Homo sapiens: one gene and its partners. The protein of the gene in region 3 interacts with the protein of the main gene of each other region in a pairwise test. Each region holds a gene or a part of one and is shown on either strand. Other genes may lie near its edges.

What was found.
Region 1: the proteins of NCF2 (region 3) and KIFAP3 interact in binary tests that used the Homo sapiens proteins (3 or more experiments, as listed by UniProt).
Region 2: the proteins of NCF2 (region 3) and GNAI2 interact in binary tests that used the Homo sapiens proteins (3 or more experiments, as listed by UniProt).

The regions. Positions count from the first base shown.
Region 1 is NC_000001.11:170,073,314-170,077,061, forward strand, and holds the start of KIFAP3 (kinesin-associated protein 3), read right to left. Parts: upstream 1,383-3,748; 5' UTR 1,155-1,382; coding exon 1,123-1,154; intron 1-1,122. UniProt on the Homo sapiens protein: Involved in tethering the chromosomes to the spindle pole and in chromosome movement. Binds to the tail domain of the KIF3A/KIF3B heterodimer to form a heterotrimeric KIF3 complex and may regulate the membrane binding of this complex.
Region 2 is NC_000003.12:50,239,192-50,242,939, reverse strand, and holds part of GNAI2 (guanine nucleotide-binding protein G(i) subunit alpha-2), read right to left. Parts: intron 1-3,748. UniProt on the Homo sapiens protein: Guanine nucleotide-binding proteins (G proteins) are involved as modulators or transducers in various transmembrane signaling systems.
Region 3 is NC_000001.11:183,569,855-183,573,602, forward strand, and holds part of NCF2 (neutrophil cytosol factor 2), read right to left. Parts: intron 3,439-3,748; coding exon 3,331-3,438; intron 986-3,330; coding exon 926-985; intron 1-925. UniProt on the Homo sapiens protein: Subunit of the phagocyte NADPH oxidase complex that mediates the transfer of electrons from cytosolic NADPH to O2 to produce the superoxide anion (O2(-)).

The DNA of each region.
Region 1 (3,748 bases), about 13 Mb from region 3:
ATAAAAAAGACAGTCAATATATGCCTGTCTTGCCAGGACAATAGAGTTGATTTATTTATTATACAATTGTTTGAATCCCTTCTATGAGTCTACTAACACTTGGAAGATCTTTCTGTGATGATGAGAGCTCAGCCAAGCCAGAATAAAAATATTCACTGCAAGTGTATTATGACTTGAAATAATACCACCACCTTACATTCATGTTTCATTTTTTAAAAGTATTTCATCTTTCGTCCTTGTATCTCTCAGAAGGTAACGCCTGTCCCATTTTCAGATGAGGAAACCGTGCCCAAAGGAATACATGCGACTTTTCCAGGGTATTTACTGAATCAGTACTGAATTAAAATTTTTTTCTATTGGATCACTGCTTACTCTTGGTTCAGTGGGAGGTATCTTTTTTTTTTTCCAAATCAGGAATGATCTGAGTATTTGCCAGCACCCAAATAATCCCAACAGACTACAATTTTTTTGAGTAACTGATACTATATTTAAAAGAAATTATGGCCTATTTTATTGTCATCAAACTTCTGAACAAACCTCTTAATAATTACTAAATGTCCTACAAAAATTATGTTGTATACATGGGAGTCAAATGGATGACATGGATGCGGAAAGCAGAAAGAGACTGGAAATCAACATCTCAATTCAGCCTTCCAAAAAGTAGAATCCACCACTTCTTTCCCCTTCATCATTTCAAAAGCCCATGGCAATGAACCCCAAACTGAGGCCTGAGGGCGGATGCACCAGACTTTATTCCCAGGCTCTCATGGGATTTATCTATTATGGGAAAATGGAGAGTCTGGGAAGAGGCGAAAAAAAAAACAAAAGACGCGGTTTACCTTGCCCTACCTCCCTCTCCCCCTGGAATAAGGTGATGTAGCGAAGAAACCATCTTTCAATGCTGTCAGGGCTCCGCCGAGTCAGGTCAAAGGACTTTGAAACCCCCCCAGAGCTCTCCTTTTTTCTCCACTTCACCTTTTCCCTCTCCTTTCGGTGACTTCTCTCCCTGCTTCCCATCCCGTCTGCTAAACTAGCGTTGCCCAGTGACATCTCACAGCCAACCCAAGAACATCTTCAGGGCCCTGGCAAGGAGGGTAGGACAGAGCCTTGGGGAGTCGTCACCTTTTGAGGTATCTGGCGTCCTCCCCTTGCATGGCGGCAGCGGCAGCGGCGTGGAGAGGATGGGGTATCTTGAGAGGCAGGCGCGGTTATTTCCGGGGACGGTGGCCAAAGTACCCTCACACCCAGAGGCGATGACAGTCCTGAGGCCTGCAAGGCGGGGCAGCAGCGGCGCTGTGGTTACCACGGTGAAGCCTCCAGCTCCTCCCACAGCTTCTGTGCCCCAAAACACTGGAGCGGCCCAGACCCGCCCAGAGTCGCCTAAGCCGGGCCGTCACGACGCATGCGCTTGCTCTGCACCTCTTGTATGCGCAGGCTCAGTCTGAGGCGGTGGCCTCAGAGTTTGACGCACCGGGGAGCCGAGCAGGGAAGTTTTGGTGCAGTTTTGAGCGTCCGTGTATAAGGAGTGGCTCCGTAGTCACCGCCCCCTTGAGGATGGGAATAGAAAGGGCTGTCAGGTCAGCTTGAAAGGAGAGAGGGGAATCCGATAACCTTTTAGTTAGCGAATGCTATACAGCAGTCCAGCTAATAAGGGAGGTTTCTATTTGGGGGCCTGAATGGCCCTGATTGCACTTACAAGCTCTAACTTATGGAGATAATCTGACCGTTGTACAAAATGGATATAACTTTGAAGGCGGCAAGTCTGTCACTTTGATGTCTTAAATCTAGAATACACCTCCCCCAACCAAAACAAACAAACAAACAAACAAACAACAGCAACAAAAAACAGTTCCTGAAATTCCAACTCCACCAATTATCCTGAACTCAAGGTATGTTTAGAATTGCTTCTTCTGAGGCAGGCAATTGTTAGCAGTGCAGGGCATAGGAAAGAAGGGTTCTTTTTTAACTGCATGTTCTCTGGTTTAAGATCTATTCCCATGGGTTCAGCTATTATGTCTATGCAAATGATATAGGTTCATTTATTTGGTAAATGTGAATTGAGGGCTGGCTGTGTGCCAAACACCAAACCAGGCTCTAGGGATGCAAAGAAAGCACCTCTACTCCCCCTGCTCACCTATAATCTTGTCACTTATTCACTGTCTTCTAGTCCTGTTTTCCCAGTTGCTTTGAGACGTGCACGTAGTTGCTCTGCTGCTTTTTTCAAATGTAGTACATTGATGCAATTATTGATTATCCGTTATGTGTAAAACACCATGTTAAGGCACTGCATGGTATATTAAATATAGAAATACAGTCCTTACCCAACAAAATATATTTTTATCTTCCCACCCATTCACACCAGCTACACTATTTCTGTAGATGTTATAGTCATTCTTTCATTCTGAAAGGGAAGAAAATTTGCAGCTAATTTTGACTCCTTCCTCTGTATCATGCCCTCTTACTAAAGTGTTACAAAATTCTATCTTTTCTTCCTTCAAGATATTCAGGTAGTCCAGTTTTTTTCTACATTCTTACTTCTACCAATAGTCTAATCACTTTATACCTAGAGTACTGCAATTCCTTCCTCATTGGACTTCCTATTTTTTGTTTTTCTAAATATTAATTCTGCAAACTAATGTAAAATTTTACAAATTATCATTTATAACACCTTTAATGGTAATATAGCAGGCTAGATTACTTTAAAATCTTCACAATACGTAAAATTGGAAGACCAAAATATACATTAAAATGCATAGATAATATAACAAGGATTTTTGGAATGTAAGTTAGCTCCTTGAGCTCAGAGAACTTATTTCGTTCACTTTTGCATTCAGCCCATAGTTGTCACTGAATAAAAATTTTGGTGTTGAAAAAATGCAAACCTGAGCTTGAAAAAACAATAGCAACAACAACAACAAAAAAACCTAAAGAAAATGCCCAGAGGCCAGAAAGAAAGAGAGAGCTGGAAACCAGAGCAATAAATAGATAGCTGAAACTGGGACTGAACTAGATAAACTGTCTGTCTGTGGCAGGAAAAGTACAAGATGAGCCTGGAACATTTTATGCTTGACAGTAAGGACATAGTCAGAGACTAAGAAGATAAGATTATGTAAAAAGGACACTGGTGAATTTGAGGCAATTTGGGAATCAAATGGAATTACTGGGATTGATTTAAGACATTAAATAAATAAAAAAAAGAAATCCATAATGATACTCAACAACATAGAAAAACAGGGAAAAAAGAACCCCACTTCCACTGGAGGCAACTACTGCATCAGATCTTTACTCTGAAAGCTGGTAATTAAAAGAAAGAAGGATTTAATCTAATGCTTTTGGAAATAAACCAGATTTCACCTCCTTTTAACAAGGAAAAGCTCTTCTTAACAGAAAATACCTGGTAGGAATGGAGAAAAATAATGATAGTTACTATTTTGCAAGCACCAATAAACAATGGATTCAAATAAGCCCTATTAATTTACTTTAAAATAATTTAAAGTGAGGCAAAGTTTTACCCCGCATATTTCTTTATAATTCTAAAGGAAAAGAAATGTTACTTTACAATGAGGAGATCTAGCTGTCAGCATTTTAAACAGACAAGCAAACAGCATCATTAGTGAGAGGTGAACCCAGCTGGACTTCTGGGTCGGGTGGGGACTTGGAGAACTTTTCTGTCTAGCTAGAGGGTTGTAAATGCACCAATCAGCACTCTGGGTCTAGCTAAAGGATTGTAAATGCACCAATCAGCACT
Region 2 (3,748 bases), on a different chromosome or scaffold from region 3:
GACTTCATTACCTCCTCCTCCCGCCGGGGGCACACACAGTAGGTGCTGCCATCACCTCCTTTGCATATCCTGAGGCTGTCAGCAGCCTTGGAGCCCCCAGATTCCTCCAAGCCATAAGGATATCTTCTCCCCAACAAGGCTGAGATGACCCCACCTTTAGGCCTTTGCTCAGACTGGTGTGGTGCTGCCTTTCAAGCCTTGTAAATGTGCACAGAGGCCGGCACAGAAGAACCAGCCCAGCAAATGTTTGGTTATTCCAGAAAGATTCTTCCTCCCCAGCCACCAAGAGCAGCCACAGCCCCAAGAAGTAACATCAGGGTGAGGGTGGGGTTGGGGTTTAGTAAGAACGAGAGCTTCAAGCTAGAAGGGCTGGGTGGGGCTGGGCAGACGGGGTTCCACCCTGCACCTGTAGCTGAGGGAAGGGCTGCCTGAGAGCATCAGGTACCAGGGACACCATCAAAGGGCCCAATCCTTTGCCTTCCCCAAAGCACCTTGCAGAGCACTCTTAGGCAGGGTGTATCAGCAGTGGCCTGGCCAGAACCTGCTGACCCCTTCCCCTCCTCGCTCAACTCCTAGGCTGGGATTCCTGGCCTGAGATGCTGGGAAGATGAGACTACTCCCTGGCCTGTACCTTGCCCCCATCTGCCCGGTCCTGCCTCCCCCCACAGCACAACGGGATGTAGGGGAGGCAGCACTCAGGCTCTGGGGTGACAGTCTCCTCCTCTGCTGTGGGTGGGGTGGGGGGAGTCCCTGGTTCCTCAGTGGCTAAGAGCTTGGGTGGACAAAGCTTCCTCCATCCTGTTCCCGCCAAGTGAATGGGTGGCTTTTAGAGACAGACTGAGAGAGTCACAGCCAGGGACCAAGAACTAAGATCAACGGCAGAGTATACAGGACCTGTGTGTCTGCCTGTGGCCCAAGTAGCCCCAAGTGCACCTACTGCCCCACCCCCTGCAGTGCTGGAGGCCTAGGGACCTTGCTGGGACCTGACCACACCCCACCCTCAGCACTACCTGCTGCCACTTGCCAGGCAAACTGATGTTCAAGGGCCTGGGACATCAGTGATGGCACTCAGTGACCCTACCTCTCAGGCCACCCAGGGCCAACCGCTGACAAGCTGCCCAGGGCCAAAGGGGTCCCGGACCATCCCCAGGCCCCATCCAGCAGCCTAGGCTCTGACACATAGTGGGTGGTGTGATGCTGCCTCAGGGCTTCTGACATGGAAGCCTGTGTCCCGCAACTGGTTTGACTTCCACCTCCTGCCACAGCAGCGCGGCTCATTCTCTCTGTCCTCACACCTGCTCTGCCCTCTGTCTGGGGTTCCTCTCCCCAACCCGCCTGGGATGCCCCCAGCTGAGCTCCAGCTGCCCTGATTCACCTAGTCTCTCAGCTCAGAGGTATCCCTTAAAGGACCTAGTCTCACTCCTACCCTAGAGGTATGACCTCATGTTGGCTGCACTGACACTGGCGTGAGAGGCAGGGGCTGAGCCTAGCAGAACTGGGCAGGATGCAGGCAGAGGGGGTCAGCTATAGCTTGGACCCCTGTTCACTCCTTAGTGTGGGAGCTCTATCCCTGCCTGCTCCTGCAGACAAAGCCCCGACAAGCCTGGGGGAGGGGTGGGAAGAAGAGACTCAGAGGCCCAAGCCGCCCCGCCCCCCATTCAAGTGCTAATGAGCTCCAGCAGTGAAGGAGAGGGCTGGGGTAGAGTGTAGGGGCTGGAGGCCAGCCTGGGTGGGTACTGGCCCACCTGGCACCCAGGGCCCTACCACATCTCCAAACCTAGACCCCCAGAGGTTGGGCCTAAGGTCCCCAGGGCAGTCTGTCACTCCTGCTGGCACCAACTATCTGCACGCCTTGGGCTCCCCACTTGCTGTGAACAGCTGCCTGAGGGCAGGGGAGGGGGTTCCCTAGGGCTCCAAACCCAGGCCAGGCAGCCTCTAGGATGGGAGACTCCTTCCCACCAAACTCTCAGCAGTGGGTCCCTCATCCATTTTCTTTTTTTTTCTTTTTTTTTTTTTTTTTTGAGACAGAGTCTTGCTCTGTCCCCCAGGCTGGAGTGCAGTGGCACCATCTCGGTCCACTGTAACCTTCACTTCCCAGGTTCAAGCGATTCTCGTGCCTCAGCCTCCCGAATAGCTGGGATTACAGGCACATACCACCATACCTGGCTAATTTTTTTGTATTTTTAGTAGAGACGGGGTTTCACCATGTTGGCCAGGCTGGTCTTGAACTCCTGACCTCAGGTGATCTGCCTGCCTCAACCTCCCAAAGTGCTGGGATTATAGGTGTGAGCCACCGCGCCTGGCCTCCCTCACCCATTTTTCATACCTCCAAGCTTTGGTAGACTGTCCCCATAACCTGTGGCTGCAGGGAGGCACTCTGCCCCCAGGTTATGAGTGGAGAGCAGGACTCCTGCCAGGGCTTCACCTGATGCTGAGTCTCTCAGCCAGTGCCATAGGTGGAACTGGGATTCGAACTCAGGTCTGGATGACCCCATGGGCTGGTCCAGGGAGGGTGGCCCTTTCCCCACCAGGCCAGGAAACACCCACCCAAGCTCTTGGGAATACAGGCCAAGTCTTCCTGCTGCAGTGTTCTTGTCGAGTTGGTCCCTCTGACCCCCAGTGCCTGGCCCTGGCAAATGGTATTCATCCTTCACAGCTGCCCAGCAGACCCCCTCCTCCAGGAAGCCCCCCTTCACAGGCACCATTAGAGTCTAACTCACTACCCAGCCAGCCAGAATCCCAAGCTAACCCTTCCTATCTGTCTCTAGCTAGACCAGGCTCCAGTGGCTGCCCCAGGATTATACTTACTCCTCTCCCAGGAGCTCTGCCCTGTTCATGGACATGTTCAATCACTTCATTCTGTCCATATACCCTCATTAGGCATCTATAGTATGCCAGCCCTTTGCAAGAGACACAGACAGGACAGAGGCCACAAAACCCCCTTTCTTTTCTTTTGGTAAACTTCATTGAGCCCTTGCTATGTGCAGTCTCTGCACTGGCCAGTACCAGGACTCTCACAGCATTGCTCTGGTCTGAGCCCCAGGGCTGCGGAGCAGCCCCTGCTGGACCAGCCAGCTCAAGCTCGACTGTGGCTACTGCAGTGTCAGAGACAGCAGCCCTCTAGCAGTGCACCAACAGCCTGAGTTGGAAGGAAGAATACAAAGCCACTCTGCTCAGCAGGAGTTCCGCACAGGGTGGGATAAGAACTCTCTCAGGTGCCAGCATAGCCTGTGGCGGGGCTGGGAAGAAACAGCCTGAAGAACTTTTCTCAGTGTCCCCTCAATGCTGGTCACCAATCCTGTGGTGGGCCTGTGGGCCCTTGCCACCTGCCCACAGTATGCAAACTGCCGCTCAGTTTACTCCACCATCTACCCAAAATCAGGTTCAGAGGATACTTCCTTCATTCAACAAACAGATGAGAAGCACCCAGTAGATGCCAGGCTCCATGCTGGGCACAGAAATGAAGAGGACTTAGCCCTGCCCTGCAGTCTCCAGGCATCTGAGGGGGGAAGCAACAGCGCTGGGAGCCAGATGTTTCACCAGCCTTGGTCGAGGGAGGATGTCCAGGAAGGATCCTGGGAGGTGATCCCAGAGTAAAGTTTTAAAGAACAATCAAGTAGGGAACAACACACACAAAGTTCCAGGGGCAAGAGAGAACTGCTCTGTTTACATTCTGAAGCCTTTATGGAGCCAATGGTGGACACTGTCTCCTTTTTTTGTGAAGCTGTCCACACAGGCCCATCCCAAA
Region 3 (3,748 bases):
GGTGGGATTATAGGCGTGAGCCACTGTGCCTGGCCACTTCTGAGTATTTAAAATTGACACAGGATCCACTGACTGGGCAAGAATCTCCTCCCCTGTTCTACACTGAATACCATGGAATCCAGTTACCTGGGCTGCATTCCCCTCATGGCCTCTGGCTGAACTGAAGCTCAAGGGACTTCAGCAAGGCTTTCATCAGCTTTATTGTGAAGAAAGAGATCAAGGAATCTAGATCTGGAACATACCTGCCCCTGCTCAGAAAACCGCCCTCTGCTAGTGCTGACCAACACTCTTGCCCATCACAGGTTCATTGCCACAGAGTTCGTATTTTCCTTAATGTGTTTTCCCCTCTTTCCTTCACAAGGAAGCTCTGTGTGCATTTCTAGATCCACTATCATCCAGTTCATCTGAGCTCACCTCTCCAAGCCCAGCTTGGGCAGAAAAAGGGTTCACTCTCAGTGCGCTGCCTGTGTTCCCGAAGGAAACCCCTGCACATGAGCAGATGGGTAGAGCCAGGAGAGCCCAAACCTCAGGCCCAGGCCCCACAGGGTTCCCCACTTGCCCCTGTACTCAAGAAGAGGCTTTGTTAATAAGCCTTCCATAGCTTGTGTTTCAGCTTCCTGAGAGAATAGTTGAGGCTTCAGAGAGAGGATCAGCAGATCTCTTTAGAGATGTGAAGACCGGCATTTGTGGGGAAGCAGGAGAGTTAGCTTCAGAGGACTTGGGGTGAAGCCTGACACTGCCTTATTTCCTCACCAGCCATGGAAACCAGGACTGAGAGAGGGCAGGCAGATCCCTCAGCTGCACTGAGGGCCACTTGAAGGAGCCCTTACAATCAGGCAACTCAGCACACATAGTCTCTCGAATTGAATGCTTCACAGAAAGCTCTCGAGACCTAGGTCCATGGAGAAGGTCAGGACTGCCTTACCTGTGGTTGCAGAGGGGCAAACCCAGAGAAACTGTCTTGATCCACCACAGATGCCACGACCTAAAATCAAGGACAGGAGGGTGTGAGGCTCTGCCAGCACTGTTTCCATTCTTCTGGGTCTCCCTCTTTGCTCATGCCCTAGACCTGTTCTTACGTGAGCCTGGTTTCAGACGTGGACAGTAACTAAGGATTAGATTCCTGAGCCTCTGGATTAGGATTTCAGCAACTGAAGAAACGAGCATTCACCCCACCCCTGCTAACACAGGCTTGCTTTCTTCTCTCTTAAAAAAGAAATGTTTTTAATTGAGGTGCAATTTGTATAACATCAAATTATCTTTTTTTTTTTTTTTTTTTTTGAGACGGAGTCACGCTCTGTTACCCAGACTGGAGTGCAGTGGCGTGATCTCAGCTCACTGCAACCTCTGCCTTCCAGGTTCAAGTGATTCTCCTGCCTCAGCCTCCCGAGTAGCTGATATTACAGGCACCCGCCACTGTGCCCGGCTAATTTTTGTATTTTCAGTAGAGACAGGTTTTCACCATGTTGGCCAGGCTGGTCTCAAACTTCTGACCTCAGGTGATCTACCCATCCAGCCTCCCAAAGTGCTGGGATTATAGGCATGAGCCACCACGCCCAGCCCAAATTAATCATTTTAAAGTGAATGATTCAGTGGCATTTATCACATTCACAATGCTGTGCAACTACTGCCTCTCTCTAATTCCAAAATATTTTCATCACCTCAGAAGAAAATGCTGTACCCATTAAGCAGTGTGTCCACACTCCCCTTTCCCCTAAACTGGCAACAACCGGTTTGCTTTCTGTGACTGACTTGAGCCCTCTTCTCTGAGTTTTAAAAATCAGATGTAAAGCTAGCTTTATTCACAAATATGCTTAAACTATAGATAATTTTCATCATTCATTCATATAATCAAAACATTTTTGCTGAGAGCTGTTATGTGTCTAGCACTGTGCCAGGCTGTGAGGACTCAGTGGAGATCAAGCAGACATGGTCTCTGCTCTCTCAGTGCTTAGAGGCTGCACCAGATATTTCCTATAAACGGAATTGTACAACATGTGGCCTTTCGTATCTGGCTTCCTTCACATAGCATAATGTTTTCAAGGTCCATCCATGTTGTATCATGAATCATACTCCATTCCTTTTTATGGCTACGTAGTATTCTGTTGCATGGATATATCACATTTTGATTACTCATTCATCAGTTGATAGATATTTGGAGGGCTTCCACTCACCCAGGCTTTCTTGACCTCTGCTGCTATGCTAGACCCAGCTACCCGACCACTGGGCAACTTTAGCCCTATGAATGTGTCAAGTCAAATGTGGTTTTGGAAGGGCACTGCTGACTCACTTCAGACCATGTCTGAAAGAATTTAAGACTTGGATTTATTATTATTATTACTATTTTGAGATGGAGTTTCATTCTTGTTGCCCAGGCTGGAGTGCAATGGCATGATCTCAGCTCACTGCAACCTCCACCACCCGGATTCAAGCGATTCTCCTGCCTCAGCCTCCCAGGTAGCTGGGATTACAGGCATGCACCGCAGCACCCAGCTAATTTTGTATTTTTAGTAGAGATGGGGTTTCACCATGTTGGCCAGCCTGGTCTTGAACTCCTGACCTCGTGATCCACCTGCCTCAGCCTCCCAAAGTGCTGGGATTACAGGCATGAGTCACCATGCACAGCCAAGACCTGGATTTAGAAGAAGTCCAATTTAAGACATAGTCTAAACATAGGGCTGTGGAAGTGGGGAAAGACTCCTCAGCCCACTAAAACGTGAACTACAAGGAGCATTAATCCAAGAGGATCCCATGCTGATCTCTTTCCCTAACATGTTCTCTTCATATTTATTTTTATTTTTTAGAAACAGAGTCTCAATCTGTTGCCCAAGCTAGAGTACAGTGGTGCAATCATAGCTCACTGTAGCCTTGAACTCCTGGGCTCAAGTGATCCTCTCACCTCAGCCTCTCCACTAGCTAGGCTGGTCTCAAACTCCTGGCCTCAAGTGATCCTCCCACTTCAGCCTTCCAAAGCACTGGGATTACAGGCATGAGCTACCCTGCCTGGCCCTCTCTTCACATTTAGTGAGCTCCTCATGGCTGTGTTTTCCCTCCATTGGCTCAGTCCCTAAGACTCAGCATCCTGTGAGTAACCCTGTGGCTCTCACCCAGGGTCGAGCTGGAAGGGAGAAATGGGAGCAGCTTGGAGAAAATAAACTAGACATGGTTGCCTATCTTTCAGCCAAACCTCTGTCCTATAAACAAGTCTCTCATTGCCATCCCAGGGACAGAGCCACAAGGAGGCTACCCTCTTCTCAAGAGTCCCTCCCACCTTGCTCCACATGGCCCGGGCCACAGGAGACTCAGGGGAAGCTGAGCAATCCCACCTACCGTCGCCTTGCCTAGGTAATCCTTCTTGGCCAGCTGAGCCACTTGTCTCTCATTTGGTCGAAACAGCTTGCCCACAGGGATCACCACTGGCTCATATAGCTTCTGCTTCTGTAACACAGAAAACGTAGCATTCCCTTATGTGAAAATGGGGGTGACGATGCTTGTCCTGCCTCCCTCAGTGAATAGATGCAAGAATTCATTGAGATAACCACATAGAAGCCCTTTTCCAAATGAGTGTTGTCATTCCTCTAGGGTGTTAAGGTAGGAACCCTTGGTTTCAATACCACCTTCTGCTGCGAGGCCACATGGACATTGCTGCTATTTGTTGCTATTCAGCACCCTCTTTTCCCAGAGGAACTGCTCCTCTCCCACTCTGTGTGCTGTCCGTGGGGTTCTCTCATGGTGTAGAGGGCACCAC